Regions from separate parts of the Homo sapiens genome. Here all the other regions are linked to region 3. Evidence: fine-mapped expression QTL. A gene starts in region 3. Each other region holds a variant in brackets. All regions are shown on one strand. Distances are between the middles of the regions.

What was found.
Region 1: its variant is fine-mapped to the expression of AFAP1L2 in pancreas (GTEx, PIP above 0.99).
Region 2: its variant is fine-mapped to the expression of AFAP1L2 in whole blood (TOPMed, PIP above 0.99). The same link has a PIP of 0.9 or more in blood mononuclear cells.

What each region holds. Positions count from the first base shown.
Region 1 is chr10:114,429,223-114,431,972 of GRCh38, forward strand. ABLIM1 (actin binding LIM protein 1) reads right to left here. Exons shown (of 23, transcript NM_002313.7): 23 at 1,890-2,750. Among named protein-coding and RNA genes, the nearest start is that of AFAP1L2, 26 kb to the left of the region's middle. The variant T/C (reference allele first, on the strand shown) is at 1,760.
Region 2 is chr10:114,303,305-114,306,056 of GRCh38, forward strand. It overlaps AFAP1L2 (actin filament associated protein 1 like 2), which reads right to left. Exons shown (of 19, transcript NM_001001936.3): 11 at 1,415-1,626. Among named protein-coding and RNA genes, the nearest start is that of VWA2, 65 kb to the left of the region's middle. RefSeq lists a silencer at 1,665-1,714. The variant G/A (reference allele first, on the strand shown) is at 1,465.
Region 3 is chr10:114,403,193-114,405,944 of GRCh38, forward strand. AFAP1L2 (actin filament associated protein 1 like 2) reads right to left here and starts at 1,310. Exons shown (of 19, transcript NM_001001936.3): 1 at 1,248-1,310. The coding sequence starts at 1,263. RefSeq lists silencers at 465-514, 1,312-1,391 and an enhancer at 1,345-1,845.

The DNA.
Region 1 (2,750 bases), 26 kb after region 3:
TGCTATAATTTGGCAACAGTCTTTTGATGGATATTATTATCTTGTCCATTCTGCAGATGAACAAATTGAGGCTGAAGAGAGGCTAAACGGGCTCCAAGACACACAGACAGTGAGTAACCCCCAAACTGTTCATAAATGCGCCTTGGTGGTAGTGTTGGGGCTCATGGCCACACTGAAGGGCGCTGGCCGGTCTCACACTAAGAACCCATTCTGTGCAGTGTGCCCTGGGAGATTCAGAATGTGGGACACAGTCCTTGCCCTAAGAAAGTCACAGGGAATGGGATGTGGAGGATAACAGCATGGGATCTGAAAAGGGCAGACCTGGAGAATTCTAGCTCTGCTGCTCACTGGCTGAGTGATTGGGCATGTTTGATTAGACTCTGAGCTTTGGTTTCCTACCTGTATAGTGGAGCTACAATTGTCTACTTTGAAAGGCTCTCACGAGCAATATAGTTATGCCAAGCTAGGGTGCCTGGCGCTCAGCACAGAGATCTCACTACAGTTCAACTGAAGAGCAGAAACCCACGCAGCTAGCAGTTCGAGGCAACACTTGCTAAGTACCGACCTTGAGGTTCAACTAGAGGCATGCAAAGAATTACATGCAGATTGGGCTGGGCCCATTAAGACAGGCTCATAGAGAGGGTGTGAACTTGGACTTGTCTTTAATTTGGAACAAATGGAGCCCATGGGAAATTCACATGGGTAACTCCAAAGAGCTGATGGGTAGCTGTTTTTAAAGAGTCAACATTGATCATTACTTCCTTTCCCTGGGGCCAGGTCCTCTCTGCTCCACCACCTCCTTGAAGAGTTGAGCATCGTAAAGAAGAAATACCTTTGATAAAGCTGCCTGGGAGGGAGCAAGCATGGTATGTCCTGGGAACTTGCAGTGGTTTGGCAAGATCTGAAGGCAGGGTACTGGGGGAGAGGCAGCTGAGCAGTGGGTGAGGCGAGATCCTTCCACTCCCAGCAAAGGCAGTGTGAGATTCGCTGACTAAAGTCTAGCAACTGAAGTGAGGCACGGGTCAACTTCCATTGGAGAGGTGGCCACCAGAGCCAAATCCCACAGAGAGTTCATAAGGACTGGAGATGACCCCTAGCTATGGTAATTATGGACCACAGCAGGGATGCTTTCCCACGGGTGGAGGCAGAGATGAGCAGAACACAGACCTTGAGCTGAGGTCTCCCGGCCTGTTTTCCATGGTGGTGAACTAAAGATGCCAACTGTCTTGAAAACAACCTGCATCCCGCTTCCAGGGGAGGGTCATGTGAATGCCAGTGTGACTGGGTCTTGGGTAGTCTCAGCAGACACAGAGCAGAAGGAAGGCTATCGTTGGAGTGGGCCATCTTGGACATAGATCCTTGTACTTTCTGGCAAGCCTAAAATCTTGGCAGTGATGATAACAAGGAAGTTAACATCTACAATTTCTTCATGTAAAGTTTGATCATGCAGGGGATGCCCAAAATTGGAAGGATGCTTTTCTCCTACTGCATTCTAGCTTCTTACTAAAAAGTGGCCCACACTCATAGTGGCTCAGAAGCTTCAAACCTCCTCAAATCCCCAGCTTTGTCGAAATGATGGGACTATCCCTGCTGTGTCACAAACCAAATCAAACACCTATGACACAGCACAGTGTAATGGCTCTACTAAACATTTCTTTCCTTTGGACAGCTTGGTCAATATGGTCTGGGTTATTGGACACACAGTCCTGGAATATCCTGCTGTTATTTGCTGCATTTTTCCACCTGCATGATAAAAATG[T/C]ATTCCCACAGCCTTGGGTTCATTCTGATTTTGTTTTGATTATTGGAAGTTGCGTTGGTGCTTTTTAAAATGAGATAGACCTTCAAAGGGAGCCAGGGAACGAGAAATGAAACACAGGTATGGAGGCATCTACGAATAAAGCACACAACTTTATTCACGAAGTTGTGAGTATGACAGTGATGCAGAGTATATGACAAAGGAGTGCAGTGAGTGCTGCTGGCAACAGGAGCGGGGAGCAGGTAGGGATCACAGGCACAGCAGCGCGGAGCCGGCAGGGCCACCTCCTCCTCTACACACAAGCATGTGGCACTTAGCGCGCCAACACACACCTGCTCAGTTTCACAGGGAACACGACACAGCTTTTCAAAAGGAATTCTTCTAAACATTTGCTTTCATATTTCCAAAAGGGGAGGGAGGGCAGGAAGAACCACACACCTTCCAACATTTGAAAAAATTCCATAAACCCAACTTAAAATCAAAGAACTCAGAGAGCTTCAATGCGGAGTCATCAGCAACTCGCAGGAACCACACACATGATTGGACAAGTCTGTACATAAAACCCCAAAAGAACATCAGTTTTGTGGACAATGGTTTCCTCTGCTGTAAAGAAACGTATGCATATATGATCAGTAAGCAGCTCACATCTTTCTGAATGTCAAGGTCTACAGGATTGTCTCTGTCCACCTTTGGTCAATGGGTTCAGGAAGTGACTCATGGGAACTGCACTCTTAGGAGAAACACTTTTGGGAATAATTTTATTGAATAACAACCACCACTCAATTACACTAAGCTTCAGAAATTGTTGGATTTGTTTAATTTTGCTGTGTACCTATACATTGTTTAGAAAGTTTCTTTTGGCTTAAACTGACCATTTCCCCCCTTCTTTTTGAGTTTTCCATGATTAAACTTGCCCAAATAAAAACATAACAATCCATATGCAAAGCATATCTGCCACCACCTCCCACTGCTTCCTGGGCCGCAAACAGAAAAA
Region 2 (2,752 bases), 100 kb before region 3:
TCCCAGTTTTTTTTTATTTTAAAGACAGAATCTTGTTCTGTCGCCCAGGCTGGAGTGCAGCGGTGGGATCTTGGCTCACTGTAGCCTCTGCCTCCCGGCTTCAAGCAATTCTCCTGTGTCAGCCTCCCAAGTAGCTGGGACTACAGGCGCCCACCACCACACCCAGCTAATTTTTGTATTTTAGTAGAGACAGGGTTTCACCATGTTGGCCAGGCTGGTTTCAAACTCCTGACCTCGGGTGATCCACCTGCCTCAGCCTCCCAAAGTGCTGGGGTTACAGGCGTGGGCCATCATGCCCGGCCCCCACTTAGTTTCAACTGGATTCTAAATACAGCTTTTCATGGGCCTCCCCTAGTCCAGGCTGCGTCTCTGCCCTGGACAGCTGCGACAGCTTCCTAGCAGGTCCCTTCTTGCCCCCTCCGATCCACTCCCACCCCAGTAGCTGGAGGAAGCATCTCAAAACCCCGATCTGAGCTTGCCGCCCTCCCCTGAAAGCCATCAGGGCTCCGTTGCTCCTAGGATCAAGCCCTGTCCCTCCCGCTCCAGCCTGTCACCCAGACCCCAGTACAAGTCTATAGCACCCTCCCCACTTCTTTCCAGCCATTGTAGCCCAGCGATTGGCTGGGTAATTTGCTGAATAACATCACACTCCCAAACTAGGATGTAAGTGCCACAAGGACGGAGTCCATATTGCTCTTGTCCACCATATTCCTGTGCTGAGAAGATGTCTGTTGATGGGGAACCTCTGAATGGATGAATATAAGCTACAAGCTGGACCCTGGGAAGCAATTGCGATGTGGGTCTTTCAGCCACCAGAGGGCAGGATTGGAGCAAAGTTTGGATGAGGACCTCCACATCAAAGACTAAGTGAACGGACATTCACGGGCAAGTGTGTGCTTCCATGCGTGGAAGGGACTCGGTCTCCGCCTGCCGCAGCTTGCAAAGCGTTATGTCACTTCTTATTTTTGTAAACGTAACATCACATCAAAGGGAGGATGGGGAGCGAGAGGAATGTAATTGTATCACAAAGCGAATTTTTTCCCCCAGATAAGCTCTAACAGTGTGGTTTTTACGTACTGGGCCTAGAGGCTCTCCCAGCTGGTGATACCCAAACAAAACAACACCCACTTTGAATCCCCAGCAGCTTTTCCAGTAGCTCAGAGAACTAAAAATACTCCTTCTGCCCTAAGTGCAGGAAGTAGCGCATGGTTCCACTCTTATAACGCAACTACTCTGAGGTCAGAAAAGGAATGGAAATTTTTAAAAATGCAAACAATCTCAGGCAAACGAAGTAAAAATAACACGCGGGGACATTGATTCTCCCTTAGTAGCATTACAGTCCTGGAGACTGGCAGCAAACAGCCACCACCGCCACACCCTGGCTGGCCCTGCTCCCCCTGCAGGCCGGCGGTACCTCAAGCTTGGCCAGCTCCTCGCCCTTGTGGAGGATGCGGAAGGAGTAGA[G/A]GTGGTCGGGGCTGGGGTCTGGGACCACCTCGCAGCCCACCAGGCTGAGGGGTTGCTGGGCCACCTTGCTCCGGTTCCGGTCCTGGTAGAAGTGCAGGTGATTGTCCCTGACAGAGCACCAGCGAGACTTCCACTGGCTGTTCACCAGCACGTTCAGGTAACCTGCAGGAGGAAGTGCAGATGCAGGAGGGGACAGGGCTGCAGGAGGGGACGCAGATGCAGGAGGGGGCGGGGCTTCGGGAGGGCACACAGATGCAGGAGGGGGCGGGGCTGCGGGAGGGGAAGCGGATGCGGATGCAAGAGGGGACTGGGCTCCAGGAGGGGACGCAGATGCAGGAGGGGACCGGGCTGCAGGAGGGGACGCAGATGCAGGAGGGGACTGGGCTGCAGGAGGGGACTGGGCTGCAGGAGGGGACGCAGATGAAGGAGGGGGCGGGGCTGCGGGAGGGCATGCAGATAAAGGAGGGGGCGGGGCTGCGGGAGGAGACGTGGATGTGGGAGGGCACGCGGATGCAGGAGGGGATGCGGACGCAGGAGGGGACGGAGCTGCAGGAGGGGTCGCGGATGCAGGAGGGGACTGGGCTGCAGGAGGGAGCGGGGCTGCAGGAGAGAGCGGGGCTGCAGGAGGGGACGGCGCTGCAGAAGGAGATGCAGATGCAGGAGGGGACGCAGATGCAGGAGGGGACGCAGGTGCAGGAGGGGACGCAGATGCAGGAGGGGACGGGGCTGCAGGAGGAGATGCAGGAGGGGGTGCAGGTACAGGAGGGGTTGGGGCTGCAGGAGGGGACACAGATGCAGGAGGGGGCGCAGATGCAGGAGGCGACGGGGCTGCAGAAGGAGATGCAGATGCAGGAGGGGATGCAGATGCAGGAGGAGATGCAGATGCAGGAGGGGATGCAGGTGCAGGAGGGGACGGGGCTGCAGGAGGGAGCGGGGCTGGAGGGGACGGGGCTACAGGAGGAGATGCAGATGCAGGAGGGGGTGCACGTACAGGACTGGTCGGGGCTGCAGGAGGGGACGCAGATGCAGGAGGCGTCGGGGCTGCAGGAGGGGAGGCAGATCCAGGAGGGGACGCGGGTGCAGGAGGGGACGCGGGTGCAGGAGGGGGCGCAGGGGCAGGAGGGGACGCGGGTGCAGGAGGGGACACAGGTGCAGGAGGGGACGGGGCTGCAGGAGGAGATGCAGATGCAGGGGGGGTGCAGGTACAGGAGGGGTCGGGGCTGCAGGAGGGGACGCAGATGCAGGAGGGGACGCAGATGCAGGAGGGGACACAGATGCAGAAGGGGGC
Region 3 (2,752 bases):
TAACCCTGTCCCCCACGCCGGCTCCCTGCTGTCGGCAAAGACCCTTCCTGAATATATGAAGCTCTGTCTGGGACTTGGATCTTTTGCCTTCACCAGTAACCAGGCTACCCAGATGAGAAAAAGCAATGGGAAAGTGAAAGACAAGACTACTTTAGGGAAGCCGGTCCCAACAGGTCCCTTTATGTCAGTTTCAGGGATCAGAGCCCTCCGGGAGTGAGATTCCTGGGAATCTGAGCGTTCTCTTTTTATTACTCTCTCCCAGGGGAAAACAAATATAGAAGCAGCATTTCCTCCCGCAGGTTTGGCGGAGACCGGTCCAGCAAAAGAGAAGGCAAGAGGCTTTTCCAAAGGGAAGGGGTCTGCAGGAGGATGGGGGAGGGGGGAGCGCCCGCAGGGTTCCTCTTAAGGGGCAACTCCCTGTACTCCCTTTTCAAAAGAACCGCAATCGAGACTTGTAGACCAGCTCCGAGGCTCCGAGTGTGGGTGCTAAGCTGGGCGTCCGGCGCACCCGGGACGGCCCGCCCACCGGGGTTTGGCGGAGATCCTGGCCCCCGCCAAACCCAAAGCTCGCCCAGCTGCGCACTGAGCTAAGCCCTCGGGTCCGGACGCCTCCAGGAGCTCCACCTGCCGGGCACTCCATTCGGCCCCCGACCCTCGCATCCCTCCTTTCTTGGTGTGGGGGAGCAAAGAAGGGCTTGGAGAGAAACGATGACCCGAACGGCAGGACGTTTGGGGAGGCCCCACCTAGCCCGGGGAGGGTCTGCGCGCCCACTCCACTGCCCAAGCGCTTTGCCGGGAGCAGGAAGCCCCTAGCCCGGCGGGCGCCCGGGAGAAAGGACTCAACAGCCCGACCCTTTGCCCCCAGCAGCTCAGCACGGTTCCCACCTTCTTCGGGGCTTCCTCGGCCCCAGGCATCTTTCCTGTGCGGCGGGACTGAGGGTGGAGTGGGGTGCCGGGCTCACCCTCTCTCCTGCAACAGGTGAGAAGCCCCGCCACGCCCCCCACTGACGACCCCCTCCTTCCGCGCCCGGGAGGATCAAAGGGCTCGGGCCGCAGCAGCCACCTAGGAGCCCACCCGCCCAGTCCGCGGCGCCGCTGTCGCCCCCTCTTAGGCCCAGGTCCGGGCTGGGTGGGGGCAGTGGGCTCTGCTTATCCCGAGTCCTGGCAAGACGAGTCCTAGCCCTGCCCTCCGCGTCGCTGGGCGAAAGGGAGTGGGTGTGCGCCGCGCGAGGAACCCGCGCCCTCACCTTTGTACCGCTCCATCGGGGCCACGGAGTGCGCTCCTCGCGGCTCGGCTTCTGCGCTGCTCTCCCGGCGCTCGGCTCAGCGCCCAGGCCGCCGCGCTGGCCCCTCCCCGTGAGGTCACGCTCGCGGCCGGACCTCCTGGCGGGGCCGCCGCGCCCAGGGTCCTCGGACCTGGCCCCCGCCAGGGCTCGCCCCCAGCGCCCCTGTCCCAGCGCCCCTGTCCCAGCGCCGGAGAACTCCGGCCCGCCGAGGCTGACAGTCGGCTCTTGAGTCGGTGCGCGCCCGCGGCCCCGCTCGCCGCCCCCGGCCGCCTTGGCACTCCCTTCACGTCTTGACTCCGGGGGCGTCGAGAGGGAACGAGACTGGGACGTTCCCAAACTCTGGGGGAGGCTCCGGGAGGCCGGGCTTGGGTGGGCCTCCAAGATTGTTCCCACACCCCTGCCCGCTGCAAACCCAATGCCTGGAGGAGGAGACCGAGGTCCAAGCTAGGAGGTTGAGACTGGCTTAGAGCTCCTCGCGCTTGGCTCCCGAGCCAGCGCGCTTTTGCCCTAGGCCTTCCTGGAGGGGCGAGGAGGGCAGCGGGGCGGGCAACCAAACCTGCTCCGGGTTCTTTGGGGATTGCTCCCACTCTCTTGGAACCTCTCTGGGCAGCCGCTGCCAATCGCGCACACTTCAGGGTGTGTGAAAACATCTGCTTGCTGCTTTCTACCTGAATTTCCAGGGCCAACGCCACAAGTCAGGGAGTGCCGTTTCCGGGGCGCCCAGTAAACCTGACCGCCTTGGAGGGGTGGCGCCGGTTCCATAAGGAAGCTCGGCCATGGCTCTGAATCTCCACCCTGCACTGCCTCCATCCAGAAGTGCCACACTTCCATCCTTTGCCTTTTGCCACCGGTCCTTCCAGGCCCTTAATGCGACCTAGTCTTCTCCGTGCTCCCCCCAGAGATCTATGTGTTCTTTTAAACTTTTTCAGTTTTCACTTTAAAATCTCAGTCACGGTTTGTGCTGGGTGCCTGGTTGGTTACCTAAGTTCCCCAGCTTCCTTGAAGGAACAATTAAGGAAGATTTGGCAGTGGTGGTTTTCTAAAAGACTTCTTAATTCTTCCTTGGAATCGCAGATTTAGTTGTGATGTTTGGAGACCTCCCCCAACCCCTCCCAACAGCATGTAGAAATATTTTTCTTAGTTATACTAGCACCTAATGTGGATGGAGCCCTCCCCACAAGCCAGGCACGGCGCTAAGGGCTGTACATCACTGCCTTTAGTTTCCCCGATATCCCTGTGACATGGGTATTATTATGATCTCTTTCATAGAGGTGAAGAAGCTACGGCTGGGCGCGGTGGCTCACGCCTGTAATCTCAGCACTTTGGGAGGCTGAGGCGGGCGGATCACGAAGTCAGGAGTTCGAGACGAGCCTGGCCAACATGGTGAAACTCCATCTCTACTAAAAAAAAAAAAAAATAGCTGGGCTTGGTGGCAGGGGCCTGTAAACTCAGCTACTTGGGAGGCT